Linked DNA regions of Homo sapiens. The protein of the gene in region 2 purifies or fractionates together with the protein of the main gene of each other region. This does not show direct contact. Each region holds a gene or a part of one and is shown on either strand. Other genes may lie near its edges. The genes, in order: ALDH4A1, RAB33A and ERGIC1.

Evidence for each region.
Region 1: the proteins of RAB33A (region 2) and ALDH4A1 purify together in Homo sapiens (affinity purification with mass spectrometry; one large-scale study listed by BioGRID and IntAct). This does not show direct contact.
Region 3: the proteins of RAB33A (region 2) and ERGIC1 purify together in Homo sapiens (affinity purification with mass spectrometry; one large-scale study listed by BioGRID and IntAct). This does not show direct contact.

Annotation. Positions count from the first base shown.
Region 1 is NC_000001.11:18,895,968-18,899,617, reverse strand, and holds part of ALDH4A1 (delta-1-pyrroline-5-carboxylate dehydrogenase, mitochondrial isoform a precursor), read left to right. Parts: intron 1-2,469; exon of another isoform or gene 2,470-2,547; intron 2,548-3,650. UniProt on the Homo sapiens protein: Irreversible conversion of delta-1-pyrroline-5-carboxylate (P5C), derived either from proline or ornithine, to glutamate. This is a necessary step in the pathway interconnecting the urea and tricarboxylic acid cycles.
Region 2 is NC_000023.11:130,178,350-130,181,999, forward strand, and holds part of RAB33A (ras-related protein Rab-33A), read left to right. Parts: intron 1-3,650.
Region 3 is NC_000005.10:172,837,114-172,840,763, reverse strand, and holds part of ERGIC1 (endoplasmic reticulum-Golgi intermediate compartment protein 1), read right to left. Parts: intron 3,415-3,650; exon of another isoform or gene 3,191-3,414; intron 566-3,190; exon of another isoform or gene 1-565. UniProt on the Homo sapiens protein: Possible role in transport between endoplasmic reticulum and Golgi.

The DNA.
Region 1 (3,650 bases), on a different chromosome or scaffold from region 2:
CCGAGGCCTTGAGCTGGTGAACACCAGGCCTCCCAACTGACTGTCTCTTTCCTCCTTTAACCCTGACTTCCTGTTTTTTTCTCAATCAACTTTACCATCAGTATCCTCAGTTCTCTTTGGAAACAGGCAGGATACAGATTAATAGCCAGCCCAGGCATGTAGTAGGCTTATAAGAGTTCACTTCTGTTCCTTATTTCTTGTGCCAAGCCCAGACATGACTCCAGCTCAGCCCGTCTGACATCAGGGGGCTTGTGGGCCGGAATTGGTTACTACCGTGTCCCCTGCAGTGATCCTGGGTGGTTTTGGACTCTTCTCAGGCTACCTGATGGTTTAATTTTCAAAATATCAAAAGCACACAATGCTTTTCCTAGTCTGCCCAGCCCTTGGATGGGCACAGCTTGCCCTGGGTCGAGGGCTGGCATTTCCCACCATTCCTTAGACATTCTCTGCTCTTGAACTCCTCCAACCAGTGGCTGGGGCAGTGCCTTTGGCCTGGAATGTCCTGCTGGCCACCTCGGTGAGCCCATCCAGTGCTTTGTGGCCTTGGCAAGGCAGCTTCTGTCCCTTCAGTATCCTCGTCTGCAAAATGGGGATGATTGTATTAACAGCCACGTAGCAGGTGGCTGCAAGGATTAGCGGTGATGTGATCAGTGGTTTCCTGGATGCTGGTACCGAATGCGTGCTCTGTGAGTATTTGAGTTGGAGAATAATTAAAACCTGTGATTATCATCACACTTCTAAAGTAGTGAAAGCGCCATTGAGGCAGTGCTTGGCAGTGGCACCCCTGGGAGCAGCCTGCCTCCTGTGCCCTGCATCTGGCCCGGCACACAGTAGGCGTTGAACGGTTGCTGTTGAGATGGTCCAGAACACAGCATGGCTTGGATCCTGGCTCCAACTCTTGGCAGCTCTGTGGCCCCGGGCAGGTTACTCACCCTCTCTGGGCTCCCTTATGTTCTCATATGGAAAATAAAGATGACAGTAGTAGTCACCTCATAGGATTGTCCTGCGTGTTAAATGGTCTCATACATGGAAAGCACTTTGGAGTGCCCAGCACCTGAAATGCTCAGTAAGTGCTGCTGTGGTTATGATGATCCCCCTCTCCCACCAATGGGCTTCCTGGAGTGATCATCTTCGATCAGGAATATCAAGACAGCAGGGCCCAGCAGTGAAGGATGGTGGCAGGAGGGGAGGTATGGAACTCAGATGTCCTCGGTCTCTTCTGTTTATTCCAATTAAGTACCCCAGATGCCAAACCTCTTCTGTTATTATTGTTGGTTTGTTTGTTTGTTTGTTTTGGAGACAGAGTCTCACTCTGTTGTCCAGGCTGGAGTACAGTGTCATGATCTCAGCTCACTACAGCCTCAACCTCCTGGGCTCAGTCATCCTCCCACCTCAGCCTCCCAAGTAGCTGGAACTACAGGCGCACATCACCATACCCAGCTAATTTTTGTATTTTTTTTTTTTCGTAGAGACGGGGTTTCACCATGTTGGCCAGGATGATCTCAACCTCCTGGGCTGAAGTGATCCTCCTGCCTCAGCCTCCCAAAGTGCTGGGATTATAGGCGTGAGCCACTGCGTCCGACCTTCTGTTAGGGTTTTGACCCTGCTCACCTCAGGGGATGGAAAAGACTTCTCCCTTTCTTGCAGCCTCCTTAATCCCCAAACCTTCCCTTTCCTGGCAGAGGTCATGGCATGGAGTGAAGAGTCCCTGGGCTGAGCTGCTGTGCCAGTGGACAGCTGAGTGACCTTGGGCAAGTCACTGCCCACCTTGGGGCGGCGGCTTTCCTCAGGTGGAAATGAGGTTCTAGCTGTATGGTGAGGAGGATGAACGTGTCCCATCAGCCCCACCTGACCATGGGCCTCTGAGATGTTCCAGGTGCTTCAGCCATACTGTAAGTCTCCTGAGTAAGGAACAGCTGGGGTCAAATCCTGCTCTGTCACTCATGAGCTGTGACCCTGAGCCAGGAGTGAGTAACTCTGAACCTCATCCGTAAACAGATCATTCTACGGTCGAGTGTCCCTCATCTGAAATGCTTCAGAACAGAGTGTTTCGTTTTTTGGGTTTTTGTTTTTTTGAGACGGAGTCTCGCTCTACCTCCCAGGCTGGAGTATAGTGGCCAGATCTTGGCTCACTGCAACCTTCACCTCCTGGGCTCAAGCCATCCTCCTACCTCAGCCTCCTAAGTAGCTGAGACTACAGGCACACGCCACCACGTCCAGCTAATTTTTGTACTTTTAGTAGAGATGGGGTTTTGCCATGTTGGCCAGGCTGGTCTAGAACTCCTGACCTCAAGTGATCCGCCCTCTTCCGCCTCCCAAAGCGCTGGGATTATAGGCATGAGCCACTGCGCCTGGCCGGAAGTGTTTTGTATATTGGACTTGCTTGGATTTTGGAGAATTTGCCGAACAAGTTGAGCATCCCTACTCCCAAGTTCCAAAGTCCAAAATGCTCCAATGAGCATTTCCTTTGAGCGTCACGTTGACACTCAAAAAGTTTCAGATTTTGGAACATTTCGGATTTTGGATTTTTGGATCAGGGATGCTCAACTTGTCATGCGTTCCTCATACGCTTATGTGGTGGATTCAGTGAGATGATCCTGTCTCACTTAGGTTAATGCTTGGCATGTGGTGGCAAGTGCTTGACAAATGTTGCCTGATGTTTGCTGGGCAGTGGCTGAAGCAGCTCATCCCTGGCATTGGGTCTTTCTTTCTTTTTTTTTTTTTTGAGACATCGTCTCACTCTGTTGCCCAGGCTGGAGTGCAGTGGCACGATTTTGGCTCACTCCAACCTCTTCTTCCCGGGTACAAGCAATTCCTCTTCCTCAGCCTCCCAAGTAGATGGGATTACAGGCATGTGCCACCATGTCCAGCTAATTTTTGTATTTTTAGTAGAGACGGGGTTTCACCATGTTGGCCAGGCTGGTCTCAAACTCCTGACCTCAAGTGATCCACCCTCCTCAGCCTCCCAAAGTGTTGGGATTACAGGTGTGAGCCACTTTGCCTGGCTGGGCCTTTCTTTCCCTCCAGGCCCCGCCCTGGGCCCTGCACTTTCTCTGCTCACCTAGTGTTGCCTTTATGTCGGTGATAGGGAGGATTAGCCTTATCAGGCTCCAGATAATGGCTGGAAAAGTCAGGAGGCTGCATGAAGCAAAGATAATTTCCTTTCTATTTCTCCTCTCCTTGTCCTTGGCCACCCCTCACCTTAGCCACTGGGGAACCCAAGGGGCCAGTGTCCAGCCCCAGGTGATAGCAGAAGAGCACTGGCCTTGGAGTCCAGTCCTGGGGGCCTGGTGTCAGCTCTGACACTCATGCATTGATTGTATTTCTCAGGTGCTTACTGTGGCCAGTCAGTGTGTTAGGCTTGGGGTGCCTGGTGGTGAATGGGATGGGTACGGGCTGGCTGTGTGGAGCCTGTGGCCTGGCGGGCACACAGATGGTCAGTCAGAGCTCTATAATAGGGTTTTCACTAGTGCTTCCAGAAAAGTCTAGAGCTATGAGAGGAATCCGATAGGAGCCCCATTCCGGCTATGTGAGGTTGGACCAGTGGAGGACATCTCAAGCAGAGAGGACCCCAGAAGAGACCGGGGTGACCGGATTGCACCAAATGGGGCAGGGTGATGGGGAATACATTTGGAGGCCTTGGTAAGGAT
Region 2 (3,650 bases):
CAGGCGTGGTGGCTCACACCTAGAGTCCCAGCACTTTGGGAGGCCCAGGTGGGCAGATCACTTGAGCCTAGGAATTTGAGACCAGCCTGGGCAACATGGGGAAACCCCATCTCTACAAAAAATACAAAAATTAGCCGGGTGTGGTGGTGCATGCCTGTAGTCCCAGCTACTCGGGAGGCCAAGGTGGGAGGATCACCTGAGCCTGGGGAAGTTGAGGCTGCAATGAGCCGAGATCATGCCACTGCACTCCAACCTGGGTGACTGAGCGAGACCATGTCTGATTTTTTAAAATTAATTAATTAATTTATTTATTTATTTTTGAGACAGAGTCTTGCTCTGTCGCCCAGGCTGGAGTGCAGTGGCGCCATCTCGACTCACTGCAAGCTCCGCCTCCCAGGTTCACGCCATTCTCCTGTCTCAGCCTCCCGAGTAGCTGGGACTACAGGCGTCCACCACCACGCCCAGCTAATTTTTTGTATTTTTTAGTAGAGACAGGGTTTCACCGCGTTAGCCAGGATGGTCTCGATCTCCTGACCTTGTGATCCACCTGCCTCGGCCTCCCAAAGTGCTGGGATTACAGGCGTGAGCCACCGCGCCCGGCGATTTTTTTTTTTTTTTTAATGAGATCATTTCATGTGTTTAGGGAGCCTGCCTGCTGTGATCTTCCTTTCTGATGGTTCTGAGGCCACACCACTGGTTCTTCTATTTTCTGCTGCGAGCAGCCTGCTTCCTGGCTCCCCTCTCACGACAGACACGTCTGCAAAGAACTCAGGGTGGGGTTTACAAAGAGCTGGAAGGGAGCAGTGCCTGCAGTTTAAATTCGGAGCCTCCAAATAAAAGCTTCAAGGCTCCCAATAGTGTTGGAAAGACAGAGGAGGTCTCCAGCAGAGAGGGCCCTCCTGGCAGTTCCGGCAATTTGGGCGGCATACGCAATTATGAAGCCAAAGAAAAGCCAAATGGCCAACCTCACTCAGCCTCAAACACCTCACACACTCCCACCCGTGTTCCTGCTAGTGGCAGGTATTTTTAGAGTCCTGAGCTCATGGTGTTAAAGCATCTGCCACATGCCTGAGGGCTGGTAGGGATTCAGACTTCTTCAGAGGCAAAAGGCAAGAGTGAAGACTCCTGGGGGGTGGGGGGAGTGGGGATCAGGAGCCAAGTGGTAATGATATTCCTGGGCTATGCCTGCTGTCTTCCTACTGACCTCCATTCCTCCTGTGGTCTGCTCTCCCTTTCTTCCTGTTCGGAACACCACGGAGAGGTGGAAGAAATGAAAATATTTTCTGTCTCTTGCTTGCAGAAGCAAATCAGTCTTTGAGGACTTATGTTTTTTCTGTGTGATCACAGTCAGACGTTCTCTCTGAAATCCCCTTGGCACATATCTAGGATGCCAGACTGCTTGTAGTTTTAGTGGTTCAGGCCATCACTGCCTTTTGATAATGTGTCTGCTGCTGATAATGATGATGATGACAACCTCAGTGACGAGTGTGGTCTGATGCAGAAAAAGACTGCTTACAGTCTTGCTGGAGAGATGCCAAGAGCACTGACGAGACAATTAGAAAACATAAATCTATTCAAAATGGTATGATGCAGACTCAAAGTGCAACAGAGATTCCTAAGAAAAGAGAATTGAAGGGAAGTTGGCGAAGGTTTGAGGAAGAAGCCTGAGGCGTGAGCTTAACCTTGAAGAATGGGTGAGATTTGGATAGGGCAATGAGGGGGCAGCTGATTCTATAGGGGAGGAGTGGACTAGCATGACCCAAAGTACAGAGGAGGGAATCAACCAGGTGTAGCTGAGTAGTTTGAAACCAGGTTGGGAAGGGTCAAATTATGGCAGACAGAATTCCACATGTGGAATCCATGTGATGCCACATACAGTAGAGGGCTGCAGTCGTTTCCTGAAGAGGTGAATGGCATGCTGATACAAGCAGGGATTGACTAAAGCTAGTCAGAAAGCCAGTATTCAGAGATCGGGCACTGGGGCTCACGCCTGTAATCCCAGCACTTTCAGGGGCTGAGGCAGGTGGATCGGCAGTGATTGGGCCTCCCAACATGCTGGGATTACAGGAGTGAGCCACTATACTCAGACTCCAATTTATTTTTATTTATTTATTTTTTATTTTGAGATGGAGTTTAGCTCTGTTGCCCAGGCTGGAGTGCTGTGGCACCATCTCGGCTCACTGCAAGCTCCGTCTTCCGGGCTCATGCCATTCTCTGGCCTCAGCCTCCCGAGTAGCTGGGACTACAGGCACCTGCCACCACACCCAGCTAATTTTTTTATATTTTTTGGTAGAGACGGGGTTTAACTGTGTTAGCCAGTATGGTCTCGATCTCCTGATCTCGTGATCCGCCCGCCTCAGCCTCCCAAAATGCTGGGATTACAGGCGTGAGCCACTGCGCCCTGGCCTCCAATTTATTTTTAAGTTCACTTTTTTGTTACCTAAGGTCAGGAGTTTGAGACCAGCCTGGCCAACACGGCAAAACCCCATCTCTACTAAAAATACAAAAATTAGCCAGGCGCAGTGGCACACGCCTGTTATCCCAGCTACTTGGGAGGCTGAGGCAGGAGAATCGCTTGAACCTGGGAGGTGGAGGTTGCAGTGAGCTGAGATTGCACCACTGCACTCCAGCCTGGGCAACAGAGCAACAGTCCATCTCAAAAAAAAAAAAAAAAAAAAAAAAAAAGCAAGCAAGCGAGCAGTGTTCAGGAGACCCTGCAATGGAAACATCCACAATCCAAAATACTTTGCTCTAGTCCAGGAGTGAGGAGAGGAGAGGCTGGCCGAGGGCCGAGGGACACAGAAATCAGAATAGAAGAAGGGTTCAATCTGAAGGTCTTGCCAGAGGAACTTGGAAGCTGTGTCAATAGAGGGAGATGACGGGGAGCCTGGACAATGAAAACTGATATTCGGAATGATGACTCTAGGGCCCTGTAAAATCTTCACTCAGCCGACAGATTCAATTATATTTACTAGATTATACTTACTGACTGCTAACTCCAAATAAAGGCTATACTTCGTTTTAAGAGCCATAGCAGTCAATTAGTGGCCATAATCAAATTTTCTTTGATAACTGAGAATTGTATAGGGCCTTGGGACCATCATTCTGAGCATGAATCTCCCTTGTCCAAGACGTTGGATATATAAAGGGAAATAGATTGGGCTGAATGTATATCTCCTGGGAGTTATGTCTTTGCATATGTTACAGATAGCAGCTTTTTCTTCATAATTTGGCCTTTATCCCAAAAGCTGAGATACAGAAGAAAAATCCAGTGAATTAAGTTCCTTTTACATAACCAAAAAGTGAACTTAAAAATAAATTGGAGGCTGGGCATGGTGGCTCACGCCTGTAATCCCAGCACTTTGGGAGGCTCGATCATTTGAGGTCAGGAATTCAAGACTAGCCTGGCCAACATGGTGAAACCCCATCTCTACTAAAAATACAAAAATTAGCTGGGCATGGTGGCGCACGACTGTAATCCCAGCTCCTCAGAAGGCTGAAGTGGTAGAATCTCTTGAACCCAGGATGTGGAGGTTGCAGTGAGCTGAGATCACACCACTGCACTCCAGCCTGGGCGACAGAACAAGACTCTCATCTCAAAATAATAAATAAATAAATAAATAGGGCTTGAAGGTGAGATTTTAATACTA
Region 3 (3,650 bases), on a different chromosome or scaffold from region 2:
CTGCTGAAGCTGGCATCTGGGACTGCACTTTGAAGAGCAAGGTTATTAGTAGAAAGTTACGGCCCCTTACTGTCCACTTCACTGGTGGGGTAACAGAGTTGCCGAAGGTCATGCAGGAGTGATGGGTGGGACGGGAACTCCACGCCCCAGCCTCCCGAGGCAAGGCTCTCCACCGCCACCCGACCTGGCTCCCCTGCTGCTCTCAGCCCTGCTTGCTATTGCTTCTCCCAATTCAGAGCACTTCTCCTCCGTCTTGGCTGTGCATTAGAATCACATGAGAGACTTTAATATACAGCCAGGGTTGAGGCTCACTGATTTAGATGTACCGGGTAAGCCTCACCCCAAATACCCTCTTCACACCCTGCCTGTCTCTCCCACGCCTGACAAAAACTGGCTAGGAGTAACTCCAAATAAAATACGAAAGGATTACCAGATGGGGAATGTAACTTAACCAGGACACAGCTGGCTAAAGCCCTGTCTCCTGCTACTACAGCACCACAGTCAGGAATCCAAACGGCCTTGGGAGGAGAGGACATTCCATCTCATTCCATGTCCCCGCGAGCAGGTAAACATGATGCTCTAAGCTGGAAAACCCCCACTGGTCAGCGTGGGAAAACTGAGCCCCTCGAGGGTGATGCCATTAGCTGGTGTGAGGGTCTTTAAAGACCATTTCAGAATCAGGTATCACGCTACATGAGGCTAGGGGGAAAAAAGTTGATGGCTTTAAGCTTCTTAATGAGCACTGTTGGGTGAGGATTAGTGAAGAGAAACCCAATGAATCCAATTAGAAGAGTTCTCAGTTCTCTCTGAATTTAGTGAATGGAAAAGAGAAAGCTTTAGAGATGAGCCTACAGGACACAGTGGAGCTCTGGTGCCAAATGGCAGTGTTCCAATCCCAGCTCCAGGAACGGGAACGACCGTGTTTCCGAACTCTGTGGCACCTCCACTGGCTCACCTGTAAAGTGGGGTAACAACAGCACCTCCCTTGTAGGACTGTGGAGAATTAAAGGGGCTGATACAGTAAGATCCTTACAACAGTGCCTGGCACTAGCAAATGTTCAATAAACCCGAAATACTGGCCTTTTCACATAATTTTCTCTCTGGTCTAATTTTTATTTTCTTTTTGCCCTGATTTTTAAGGCTATATGTGTATGTGTATGTGTGTGTATGTGTGTGTGTGTGTATGTGTGTGTGTGTTTTGAGATAGGGTCTTGCTCTGTTACCCAGTGTGGAATGCAATGGCATGAACATGGCTCACTGAAGCCTCCACCTCCTGGGCTCAAGAGATCCTTCCACCTCAGCCTCCCAAGAAGCTGGGACCACAGACGCACATCACCACACCTGGCCATTTTTTTTTCCCCATAGAGATGGGGTCTGGGGTCTTGCTATGTTGACCAGCTTGGTCTTGAACTCCTGCAATCCTCAAGCAATCCTCCCACTTTGGCCTCCCAAAGTACTGGGATTACAGGTGTGAGCTACCACACCTGGCCCATATATATATACTTTTTTTTTTTTTTTTTTTTGAGACAGAGTCTCGCTCTGTTGGCCAGGCTGGAGTACAGTGGCAAGATCTCAGTTCACTGCAACCTCCGTCTCCCGGGCTCAAGCAATTCTCCTGCCTCAGCCTCCCGAGGAGCTGGGATTACAGGTATGTACCATCAAGCCCGGCTGATTTTTGTATTTTTATTAGAGACGGGGTTTCACCATGTTGGCCAGGCTGGTCTCAAACTCCTGACCTCAGGTAATCCGCCCACCTCAGCCTCCCAAAGTGCTGGGATTACAGGCATGAGCCACAGCGCTCATTTTATATTTTTTAAAACTTGCTGTAAAGTATATGTTCTTGTCAGCTTCCTTGGAATTCTTTCTGGAAGAAACAGCAGGGTAGAAATACAGGCATTCATGTTAGCTACTCTCTGCTGAATGTTAACTCTGTGCTCAGAGGTCCCTGTGGTGGCTGAGGCTTAGCTTGGTGTAGGAACTGATGGGGCTACCAGGGTCCCATTCCCTATTGGGGCCTAAGGAATTAAGACTGGGCCAGGTGCAGTGGCTCATGCCTGTGATCTTAGCACTTTGGGAGGCCAAGGAAGGAGGATGACTTGAGGCCAGGAGTTCAAGAACAACCTGGCCAACATAGCAAGACCCCATCTCTATATAATTTTTTTTTAAAAAGGAATTCACACTGGATCCTTAGAGCAATGAGACCCATTTGAAGGTTGAAATCAGGACATGAAAATATCAGATCAACTTTGGAAAGCTCACTAGGGAGTCCTGAGGAGGTCTGGGGTATCCTGGAGGGAGAAAGACCACTCAGAAGGCCAGAGTGAAAAATGGTAGAGGCCAAACCAAGGCCCTGCAGCAGGGCCAGCCCCATCAGGGCCGCATGACCTGTGCAGGCACACAGGGTCACACACTCAGAGGGGGGTCCATGCTTGGCTGAATGCGCTGCTGCTGCCGTCCTGAAATTCTTAATACTTTTTCAACAAGGGACTCCACATTTTCATTTTGCACTGGGCCCCACAAATTATGGGCCTCATCCTGCATTGCAAGTTGCATTGCACATTGATCCTGCAAGTGTGCATTGATCACACTTGCCCCTACATCTACTCTACCAGGTGAGGCAGCGAAGTTTACATCCCCTCCTTAAAATGAAGAAATGGAGGCTCCGAGAGGGGAAGTCAATGGTCCCAGAGCACATCTGGTCAGTGCCAGTGCAGCGGCACCCCCGAGGCCTTGGGTTTTCAACATGGGGGCTGTCACTGTGGGACAGCAGCCACCTGCACCTCCCGGAAGGCAGTGCTCAGGCACCACTGGGCCTGGGCACAGGGCTTCCGGATGCTGTTATCTTCCCTCCTCACCCACCCTGGGCTGGTGTGCAGAAGGCAGCAGGTGCTACTGGCCCCAGGCCAGCCGGAACTCGAAACAACACACACGGATGTGGGTCACAAGGCTAGTTCCACAACTGCAACAGCCAGCCATTAGTGAAACAATTTAACAAGAGCAAAGCAAACACAATAAATCATTGAAAGCTCAGCCTCCCTCCCCTGCGTTCTGCCTCCTTCCTTAACCCCAAAAACAACCTAGGAACGGCAGATTCAAGGGTGGAGAGGGGAGATTTCTCCACTAATGGCTGAAAATCTGCCCACTGAAGCTGGCATATCAAGTCACGTCATGTCTATGGCTTCCTTGACAGATTTCAAGAGGCATCTCCAAGGATCGAGTTTGGCTCAAGCACAGTTCTAGGTGCTGGAGATGCAACCTTGAAGAAGCCTGATAAAAACTTCTTGCCCTCAGGAGCTCATGTACTAATGGGAGGGAGAGAGAAGCAGCATGATAATTAAGTGAATTATATAATGTGTTAGGAGATGATGGGTGCTTAAATAAAATGACACAAATAAATATGGCGGCCAAAATGGATGAGGCGCTTACTCTGTGTCTAAATGCTTTCCGCACTGCCTCATCCCTCAACTGTTCTACTTCGGTGAGTACTCTCCTCATTCCCATTTCACAGACAGGAAAACACAGAACTCAGTTGCACCAGGCTCTACAGGCAGTAAGAAAATCAGAAGTATCCGTAGGGAAGGGCAAGAGTGCACTATTTTTCCTGCTTCTGATTTTAAGAAGGGGAACACGAGCAGGACGGCTGGTTTTCT